Linked DNA regions of Homo sapiens. The protein of the gene in region 1 interacts with the protein of each later gene in a biochemical or structural test. Each region holds a gene or a part of one and is shown in the gene's direction. Other genes may lie near its edges.

Region 1 (3,656 bases):
TCCTGCCTCAGCCTCCTGAGTAGCTAGGACTACAAGCACGCACCACCACACCCAGCTAATATTTTAAAACATTTTTTGTAGAGACGGGATCTCACTATGTTGTCCAGGCTGGTCTTGAACTCCCAACCTCAAGGGATCCTCCCACTTCAGCCTCCTGAAGTGCTGGGATTACAGGCGTGAGCCAGGAGCCTGGCCTAAACTCTGCTGTTTAATCCTAACAACAGGCCTTCCTCTGCCAACACCTACCCCCCTGTCCTGACTTGCTGAGTCCTATAACAGGTCTGCTTTTTGAGCCCTGCTACTGCTGCTCATCACTGTTGGCAGAGCCAGTCTCAGCTGGGCAATGCCCTTAGCCTCGGGGGCTGGGTTGCCTTGGCCACTGGTGGGGTCGGACTTGAGACTCTGGTGCCTCCCATGTGGAAGACCCAAGTCTCTAGTCTGTGAAGGGATCCTCAGGATTTCAAAAAGTCCTTTGCCTTTGATTAGGGGATTATTGCTGCTACCAAAGTTTTTGGGTCACTTTCCTTTGGTCTGGAGTCGTGTGGGCACCATTCATGATGAGGGTACTGCCGCATGTGTTTGATTAATGGTGTATCAAATCTTTCAAAATATAGGGCTCAGGGTGTAGTGCTATGAGCAGCTCTTGAAAGTGAAGCAGTTGGCAGCCTTGGGGTGTTCTGAGGTCTCTTCTTGCTCTGAGGCCAGCAAGGCCGGATGTATGTAGGCCTGGTCTTTGGCCCACACCTTATCTTGGCCACTGTTAGAGGCCAGGTCGAAGGGCAGTGTCACAGAGGTCAAGTTTGAAACATCATGAGCAGCTTGGGCTTTTCGGATTGAGTTAGTGTGGCCTTGGTCCCTGCCTCCAACCCCTACATGTGACTGTCACTGGGTTGTTCAAATCTAGATTCAAGATCAGGTTCCGCCCAGAATATCTTGGGTGGAGTTGAAGAGTCTGGGAAGTGGAAGAGAGAGCCAGAGTATGTTGAGCCTGCTAGTTACGGGAAGGAAATTTTTTTTTTCTAGAAATCTCCAGCATGCTCAGTTTGGGCATGTGTCTATGATTTTAATATCGGGATCTTAGCTGTGCCAGTTACTAGTAGTGTAGCTGGGGCAAGTCACTTAATTGTTCTGTGCCTCAGTGTCCTTGTCTGTAAAGGCTGGGTAATTCCTACCTCATAGTGTTGTTCTTAGCTTTAAGTAAGTTAATACAGGTAAAGCACTAGAACAGTGCCTGGCATACAGTAAGTGCATAATAAATACTGGCTGCTGCTGTTATGGTGGTGGTGATTTTCCTTCCCATTTCTGTGCAGTATTCATCTGAGCAGGGAGGTAGGAGACTCAGATATTGATTATGAAAATTAATTGAAATCAGATGAGGATATTAGCTTCCTTCATATACAGTTTGCCTTTGTTTCTGGAGGTGGCTAGGACTGAGCAGATTTGCACCTGGGCTTCAGCCCCTGTGAGCTACTTCATCTTTTTTTTTTTTTTTTTGAGACAGGGTCTCACTTTGTCACCCAGGCTGGAGTGCAGTGATGCCATCTCAGCTCACTGCAGGCTCAACCTCCCGGAATCAAGCGATCCTCCTGCCTCAGCCCCCTAAGTAGCTGGGACTACAGGTGTGCACCACCACACCTGGCTAATTTTTGTATTTTTAGTAGAGACAGGGTTTTGCCATGTTGCCCAAGCTGGTCTCGAACTCCTGAGAGCAAATGATCCACCTGCCTGGGCCTCCTAAAGTGCTAGGATTACAGGCATGAGCCACTGCGCCTGGCTGGCTGATTCATCTTATTCCCAGCCCTTGGTGGTCCCAGTCTGCAGTGAGCCTTGGACTCTGATTTCTGTCTCCCTGCCCTGTGAGGCTGACAAAGGCTCCCAGCCTTGTTCTGGGATTGGCAGATGCCTCTGGAGAGAACATCCTAGATATCAGGCTTATCTCTCTGGGCCCCCTTCCCCCTTCTCCTGGACCTTGACTTCTTAATCCTCTGCTTGATTGGCTCTCCAGCATCTTTTAGCAGATCTCCCCGCTGCCCCATTATTTGGACTGCTTTCCTGGCTGTTTGCAGTGGGAGGATTGGTCTGAGTGGCCCCACCTGCCATTACCGAAGCAGCTGTCCCAGCTCGTTCTGTTCCTGTGTGAGCTTGGCCACCTTTCTGTCCTCCTTGCTTGAGTTTCATTGGCTGTAAAATGGGTAATTAGAGAAAAACTCATAATAATATAAGCTGGCATTTAGTATGTTTTTCCTAAGATCCAGGCATTGGGCTGAGTACTTACATTGTTTCAATTAATCCTCCCAATAGCCCTGTGAGCTGGGGACAGTTGTATCTATTTTGTGTCCAAGAAAACTGAGGTGAAGGACACAGTTGCACAGCTGGGAGTTGGGACTGGAACCCTGGTCTGTACTGTCCTCTGAAAAGGATGAAGGGAAGTAGTAAGTATTAGAATGCTTCAAAAAGCTCCAAGCAGGCAAGACTCGGGTGACAGGACTTGGGGTGGCAAGACTTGGGTGGAGTGGAAGAGGAAGGAATCTATCCTGTGGGATAGTTCCAGGGATGGCTTCTGGTGGGGCTGGGCTGAAGAGGTGCATTCTCAACCTCATTTGTTTTCCCTGCAGGCCACCCTGAGGCACAAACTAACTGTCATGTACAGTCAGATCAACGGGGCGTCGAGAGCACTGGATGATGTGAGAAACAGGCAGCAGGATGTGCGGGTGAGTGGCAGGGCTCTCCAAGGCCAGCCCTGCCCTGTGGCTTCGCTCAGCTTCCACGCGGGATGGGCGTGGCTCTGACCATGACAAGGCTGGTGTTGGGTGCACTCACAGTGTCAGGATGAAACATCAACCTTGCAAAGCATGCAGACAGCTGTGTGTCTGAGAGAGATCCTTTGCAAACCCAAACCAAAAATTACCTATAAGCCCAACTGTGGGGGAAATCATTATAAATTAGGATTAAAAAGTAGTAATTCAGAAAAATGGTTATGATATAAAGTGGGAGAAAAAGAGGAAGCAAAAGTATATAGCTCATAGGGTTGCATCTATTTACAAAAAGGAAGTATATTAGTTTCATAGGGCTACTGTGACAAATTGCCAGAAACTTGGTGGCTTACAACAACAGAAATGTATTCTGGCAGAGTTCTGGAGGCCAGAAGTCCAAAATCAAGATGTTGGCGTGGCCACACTCCCGAAGTCTCTAGGGGAGAACCCTTCTTTGCTTCTTACAGTTTCTGGTGGCTCAGGCATTCCTTGGCTTTTGACTGCATCACTCTGATCTCTGCCTCTGTCTTCACATACCTGTCTCTTCTTCCCTTAGTGTCTTCCATCTCCAATAAGAACCCTTGTCATTGGATTTAGGGAGCACCTAGGTAATCTATGATGATCGAATCTCAAGATCTTTAATTGCATCTGCAAAGACCTCTTTCCTAAGTAAGATTACAGTCACAGGTTCTGGTATATGGACATGTCTTTTGGGGGCCCAGCATTCAACCCATTACAGAGAGCATGGAAAGAAACTGAAAGGGAATATTATAGAAGGATCATAGTGGAAGTGTTGGAGTGGTAAATTAGGAATGGTTTTGTTCCCCCTGTTTTTCAGATTTTCGATACGTTTAAATTGCTTTTAAATGGAAAGATCAGATTTTTACCCTTTTTCAGAGCTGC
Region 2 (3,656 bases), on another chromosome or scaffold:
AACACGTTAAAGGAAGGCCTCTGATTTTTTTTCTCTTACAGGTCATACCCAGCTGCTGTGACACCACTTAAATGATTTAAAAGCTTTAGAGAGACAATATAACAGTGGTTAAGAGTGTAAACATTGGAGCAGAAATGCTCCAGTTAGAATTCTAGCTCTGGGCAAGTTTATGTGCCTCTATAAGAAGGGTATCTGTTGTAATATGAACAATAAATGACTGTGTGCCTAATATGTACCAGGCACTGTTTTAGACATTGGGGTGGCAGCAGTGAACAAAACAAATTTTAAGTTCCTAGATTTGTTTTGACGATTAAATGGATTAATGTGCAAATTTGAACAGGCTCTTGGCACATGACACTCCTAGTTATTACTGCTATTTTAATATCACAATTTATAATTTTTAAAAATCGTTTTTGTTTAAGAACTTTGATTTCTAGTTTAGTACTCTTAGTTAACCAGGTTGTCTCCTTTTGTAAATATTTTGAAGATTTATGTAATATAGACACAACATAAAAACTTGGCATATTGGAAAAACCAGTGTTTATGTGAACATTATTGATTCAACTTACAGAAACTTTGACGTGTGCATGTGGTTTGGTTTTTCAGCTGTTAATGTTAAAATCACATGAGGCAACTTTCAAACATTCCACATCCAACAATTTTAGTGAGTGGACAGCTCTGAACTGGAATGCTCTTCGGTTTAGGCACCTCTTCTAGAAATATGGGGTCAAGTAGCCATTGATGTCAGTATGGTATGCTTGTGTTACGTACCTATTTCGAATTTATTCTTGTCTGAAGGTCCCACATTTCAAGTATTATGATATATCTGTATTCCTCGTTAATATTTTACTGAAATGATTATTGGAATAGTTTTAACCTTTAGTCCATTTGATCGAGCTTTTGAATTTATACTTTGCTTCAGCTGTGTTCTTGGAGTAAGTTTTTTGACTGTTAGACCAATCAACTTTTTTCCTGTATTCTTTATTTGAACGAGCTGTAATATGGTCTTAAATAGGGCTATTAAACAACAGGAGTTAAAAGTGGCACTCCAAGTTGATTGGTATTGAGAGCTGTAGACAATTTTACCACTCCCATTAAACAGGGACTACAATATATGTGTTTTAGGGACGTTTGAAGATAAATATGTGAACCAAGCCTAAAAGAATAGCTCATGTTTTCATTGTATACACCCTGTTAAGTTTTCGTAAGGGTTTTTATTTCTGGAAGTATGACTTTAGTGTTTATATATGATTATAAGCAAGCGGCTAGCAGGGAAACCATGGGTAAAGGGTTAAAAAACTCTCATTTGATCTTCGTTTCCCTCCTACCACCACTTCCACTGAGATAATTTCAAGATTATCTCCATCTCGAAATTGAAAAACTTAGGCATAGAGGTTAAGAAGATGACCCAGGTTCATGTTGTGACAGTTGGGATTAGAACCTAGGCAGCCTGGTCCAGAGTATGTGCTCTTAACAACTACAGTTTGATATCATCCTTTAGTTTTTTTTTGTCATTCAGAACGGTTTACTTTTGCATATAGTATTATCTATTACAGTAGTTAAGACAATGCAGTCTCATCTAAACCCTAACTCATTTAATCCTCAAGACAACCATGTGGGATAGATGTGAGAATTTTATAGATGAAGTAACAGGCTCAGAGAAATAGTCGTCTAGTCACACAACTAGTAAGTGACTGGGATTCAAATCAGATAGGCACCAAAAGCTCAAGCTCTTTTTTGAACCATTTCAATTCCTTTTTTTGTTGTTGTTGGAGACGGAGTCTCACTGTGTTACCCAGGCTGGAGTGCAGTGGCGCGATCTCAGCTCACTGCAAGCTCTGCCTTCTGGGTTCACGCCATTCTCCTGCCTCAGCCTCCTGAGTAGCTGGGACTACAGGCGCCCACCACCACCCCCGGCTAATTTTTTTGTTTTTTTAGTAGAGGCAGGGTTTCACCGTGTTAACCAGGATGGTCTTGATCTCCTGACCTCGTGATCCACCCGCCTCAGCCTCCCAAAGTGCTGGGATTACAGGCGTGAGCCACCACGTGGCCTGGCCCTTCAATTCCTGTTTTATAATGTATGTGATTTTAGTTTGTTACCTGAAATAAGCTGCTTTGCTCTCCCACTTATACATCTAAGTAATTGGGAGTTAGCTTTACTCTTAGGTTATAGCTAATTTGTGAGTTAAGATTTTGGCTAATAATATTTTGAAAGTAGAAGTGGATTTAATTCTTTTGGGGTAGTCTCTTCAAGCACTGAAAACTAACATGTGCCAGTTAACTGCTTAGGATGTCTTAGAGTGAACAAAATATATTTATTGTCCCCAACTAGTATATAGGCTGGGTAAACTGTCTTGCATGTGTTTCATATATGGTCCTCAAAGCTTGTTGATAGCCAGCTCACTTTCTGTGTAGGATAGTTGTGACTGAAGGATGCTGATAATAATAGGACCTCAGTATTTGTTTAATTTGAAAAAGGATGCATTACTGACACTGCATACTTTTCTTTCATCATGCTCATCTGCAGTGTTGATTCTAGTTTTTGTTATTTATACAAATAAAAAGTTGAATGCTCCATCACTGGGATGAACTACTGTGTCACTAGATTGCTCTGTCAAACTTTGCCCCTGAGTTTAGGTGACCCTTTTTATCCAAGACAGGCAATCTTTGAGGATTCTCCACAGCATGTTGCTATAATCTATCTATTAAAAAAGAAACTAGGTTCGTAACACTGAGATAAAAAAATGTTTCAGATTAAAATCTCAAACCTAGGTTGGTTTTTGCATTCTTTTTTTAAATAGCAGTTTTCTTGTATCTGTTAGCGTATAGAAGAGCTTACTGAATATTATATATTGTTGGGTGTGACATGAATTACATTTATATTCCAGAACATTTGGAGTTTTTAAAAAAATTTTGTGGGTACATAGTTGGTGTATATATTTATGGGTTGCATGAAATATTTTGATACAGGTATGCAATGCATAATCACATCAGGGTAAATGGGGTATATACCTCGAGCATTTATCCTTTGTGTTACAATCCAGTTATACTTGTTTACTTATTTTTAAATGTCAGATTGTTTAGAATTTAAAAAAAAAAATACAGCTGCATGGGGGTCTTAGACTTACTAAATCATTTTCCCTGGAAACACATAATTTTGAAAATTTTCTAGGTGATTCTGAAGCTCCTCTCTGATTAAGAACCACAGATACAAGGGAGTAAAGGTCCTAATCTGCATTAGACGTAGTATTCTAGTCCCAGGGAATAAATGAGGAAGATGGTCCTTATCTATGGTAATCTCTGCGTTCAGTGGTGAAAATAAGCATGTAAACACATGAATAGTTGTTTGTCACTTTGTAATTTACCTTTCAAGAATATTAGATCTAGTAGGGGAGGTATTTAAAATAAATTTTCTATACTGTATTTTTTGTACTAGTATTATTACAATGTGATTTGTCTTTTATTATAATGACTTAATTCCCCTTGCCAAAACCAGTATTTTGAAATTAATGAAATAAAACTCTCCATTCTTGGAAATGTTGTGGTCTTGAGCTTGCTACCATAGCAGTGTTATTTCATAATTAAAAATGAATGCATTCACCAAATATCTTACTGCCCAGTTTCTCTTATTAGATAAGATTTATTCAGAATTGTAT
Region 3 (3,656 bases), on another chromosome or scaffold:
CCAAAACTACTGAATTTCAAAGCAGTACTCTGGGCAGTTGTCTCAAATTATTGTTTTATTAAGTTTGTTTTTCTAAAAAGGCAAAATACAATGTATTTATATAACAACTTTCAATAAGAATCCATTTATTTCTGTTTGTTTTTAATTAGTTACTAAGAACCTTCAAAATACTCTCATTTAAAGGCCCACCCTTACCTTTTGAATTATGGCCTTTCACAAATATTTTTTAGGTGAATCACATGTAACAAATGGTTATAATCATGTTATTCATAACTCCCTTACTTTAGTAATGTAAATATTTACAGTACTCTGGACCATATCTGTCATTGTAATTTATCTTCATTTTCTATATTTCTTACAATTTTTGATAAACTAGAATTGTTTAAACAATATATATAGTAAGAATTATTATACAGGAAAATCCTCTAGCATATATGTGGAAACTTAACGAGAAAGTAATGAGTCTTGGTGTTATTACCAGAATGCTAATATAACATGATATATTTAATTAAATATGAAAGAATTAAAATAGAATTGTAGGTATAGTTTGCTAGCATTTTCTTTTTTTAAAATTTTTTTGCTTGTAATGTTATATTTTCTAATGGCTATAAAGAAACATGGTCAAATTTAAATTTCTCTAGTAAAGTTGATTCCCAATTTGATAGTAGCATGAATATATAATTTTGTTTTGGATTTTTTTGGGTTCTCTACATTATTTTATAAATAATTACTAAACGAAGATTTGGCACATAAATTGTGTAGCAGGGTCCTTAGCATTTTCTTTTCACGACAGCCTCTTCAGTTCATCTCCATTCTTGGTCATCAAGTGAACATCAGAACTTAAGTTTTACTATCCTCAACCCTTTTTCAAAAAAAATACTGATTACGGCTGCAGAAAATGATCTTTTCCCACAGCAGTCGTGTGTATACTGATCTTTAACAATTTGTACTCATAACCAGATTTGTTTGGACAAGTCACAGCACTGTGTGTGTCCTGTTTTTGTTTTGTTTTAAATTTTATGATGTCGGCATAGTTGTTGGAAAATCCTCCTTCGTACCTGCAGAGAAACCTGTTCTCAAAGTAAATGATTTGAACTTATGACAAAATGGTTGCATTTTTTTCATATTGGTAATATTTAATGAAATTATTTTAAACATGATGGCATTTTTTTCAAACTGATAATATTTGGGGGAAATAATTTTGTTGTTATAAATAAATATAGTAATCAAATGCTGATGCAAATCTTTTGTAATTTCAGCCTGATAGCGCATATCAAGGTGGAGTCTTCTTTCTCACTGTACATTTTCCGACAGATTATCCTTTTAAACCACCAAAGGTATTTTTATTTTTATGATTGATGTGACTCCCATGTAAGAGATTTTATTCTTTATCTAGAGCTCATTTGATTATCTAGAGCTCATTTGATATGTCAAAGACTGTGGGGAGGTTAGCATTTTCAAACTGTTTTGTAAAAACTACTGAATCTAAAATCTGATTTCTTATTGAAATACTGTATTAAGTCTATAAAACAAAAGTCAGTACGTGTCATGCTATAAATTAAATTCCTTGCTTTTCTTTTCCTTCTTATTGGATATGTGTAGTTTGGGACGTTTTTATGATTAAGAGTCAGACTTTTCTATTCATGGGATTATCCTTACAAAGTTGATCATTCTTTCTCTGTTTTTTTTTTTTAAGTATTCAATAAACATTCACCGAGTACCTACTGTGTTCTTCTACACTGGGGAATCCGAAAGTAAATATGAAGCAGTCCCTTAATTTAGTATGGTAGGAGAGAGAAACACATGTTAGATTTAGATTTGCTCTAAAGAGGAAACAAATGATGGGGATATCAGGGAGGGGAAAAGTGGGCAGATTTTGTCACTCAGGATATAATTATTTTAAATAGTTAAAAACAGATTAACATTGTATTTATGAAATGGTATGACAACTCTTGTGGAAAATTAGGATTCTTAATGGATTTCTTAGCTGAGACGCCTCAACTTTGCCCTGAAACAGCGTCAGCACCCTGGTTTTAGATCCAAATGTTACTTCCAGGTATCACCAATAATCAAATTAAGAAAAGGATTACTTCTACATATGATGGAAGCCATGGTTAATTACTTTAGATGCTGCTCAACCAGTCATACCGGCTACTAGAGACTTATTTATTACACTGTCCAAAATACTCTTCAGTTCCTTTGAGGGCAAAAGAAGGAAGCTGACTTGTTTGTGTTCACATTCTCACTAGCTAGAACTGTGTGTAGCACAAAGTAGATAATTATTTGATTTGTGTTGATGACTTTTCTCCTCTAAAGTTATGTAAAGTTGAGGATATTTTACCCTAGAGCAAATTGGTTCTGTTTTATTCATAGTTGATTCAAAGGTGATTGTCATATTTTGTTGTTTTGTTTTATGTTTAGATTGCTTTCACAACAAAAATTTACCATCCAAACATAAACAGTAATGGAAGTATTTGTCTCGATATTCTGAGGTCACAATGGTCACCAGCTCTGACTGTATCAAAAGGTAATTTCATTGATCAGGTTTGAAACAGTTGATAACAGTGAGACAGGAAAAATACAGCAGAATTACCTATGGACTAAAGTTTTAAAACAACAATCAACTGTGCTTTCTCCTGTTTTGATTTTGTTTTGCTCTCTTTGCTCTTATGTTACTATGGCTTTTGGCAGTTAGCTTTGGTTGAGGGGAGTGTGGATGGACAAATCTAAATGATGAAATGAGAAAAAACCTTAAAATATCAGAGCTAGAAATTTGGGGATAAACCTATTGATATTTTATCCTTTTAGCTTGGGTGTTGTCTTTTAAAAAAGAGAGAGTGCCCGGGCACTGTGGCTCATGCCTGTTATTCTAACACTTTGGAAGGCTGAAGTGGAGGATTGCTTGAGCCCGAGTTCGAGACCGGCCTGGGCAACATAGGAGACCCCATCTCTGCAAAAGAAGAGAGAGAATAAGAGATAGTAAAAGGAAGATTTTGGGACTGGTTGTCCCATTCATTAAATGGAAATGTTGACAATAATAAAGCTTTACAGCTGTTTTACTTCATCCAAGAATAAAATACCAGATTTGATTGATAAATGATTTAAGATGAAAGACATTTCACACTGTAGGATAATGCAGTACATATAGCATGTTAGTCTAAACTTCGAATAATCAGTAGCATCATTATAGTGACTGACACAAGATCTGTGCTGATTCTCAACTTTTACAGGGGTATAGCTGTTCTTTGCTGGATTATCAGGTGTATACATAGGCATCTCAAGCCATTTTATTTCATTAGCCACTGCTACTTACTGTGCTAGCACTCTTAATTTATGTCTTGTTTCTCTGAAAGAAGAGAACCTGACAGTTGGAAAATACTGTTTAGGTTAGAAGTAGCTGCACTGAAGCAACCATCAAGTTTTCCGTTTTTATAAAATTGAAGAAAATGTTTCTCTTGAAGGGATTTATGGAAGCAATCTGTACTCATTTTTTATTTTTAATAATTGCTACTTGAATATACAGCATGTTTTTAAAAGTAATAAGGTTTATAGGAAGCAGGGTCCACAGCCGTAGCTCTTTCAAATATTAGATAAATAATAGCTCTTTCAGTTCAATTATTTATGAACGATAGTTTTTCTGACCTAAGATGCTCATC

Evidence for each region.
Region 2: the proteins of TRIM25 (region 1) and UBE2D3 form a complex in vitro, tested with the Homo sapiens proteins (3 studies listed by BioGRID).
Region 3: the proteins of TRIM25 (region 1) and UBE2D1 form a complex in vitro, tested with the Homo sapiens proteins (8 studies listed by BioGRID).

The regions. Positions count from the first base shown.
Region 1 is NC_000017.11:56,907,523-56,911,178, reverse strand, and holds part of TRIM25 (E3 ubiquitin/ISG15 ligase TRIM25), read left to right. Parts: intron 1-2,615; coding exon 2,616-2,711; intron 2,712-3,656.
Region 2 is NC_000004.12:102,821,052-102,824,707, reverse strand, and holds part of UBE2D3 (ubiquitin-conjugating enzyme E2 D3), read left to right. Parts: intron 1-3,656. UniProt on the Homo sapiens protein: Accepts ubiquitin from the E1 complex and catalyzes its covalent attachment to other proteins. In vitro catalyzes 'Lys-11'-, as well as 'Lys-48'-linked polyubiquitination.
Region 3 is NC_000010.11:58,362,350-58,366,005, forward strand, and holds part of UBE2D1 (ubiquitin-conjugating enzyme E2 D1), read left to right. Parts: intron 1-1,259; coding exon 1,260-1,337; intron 1,338-2,421; coding exon 2,422-2,527; intron 2,528-3,656.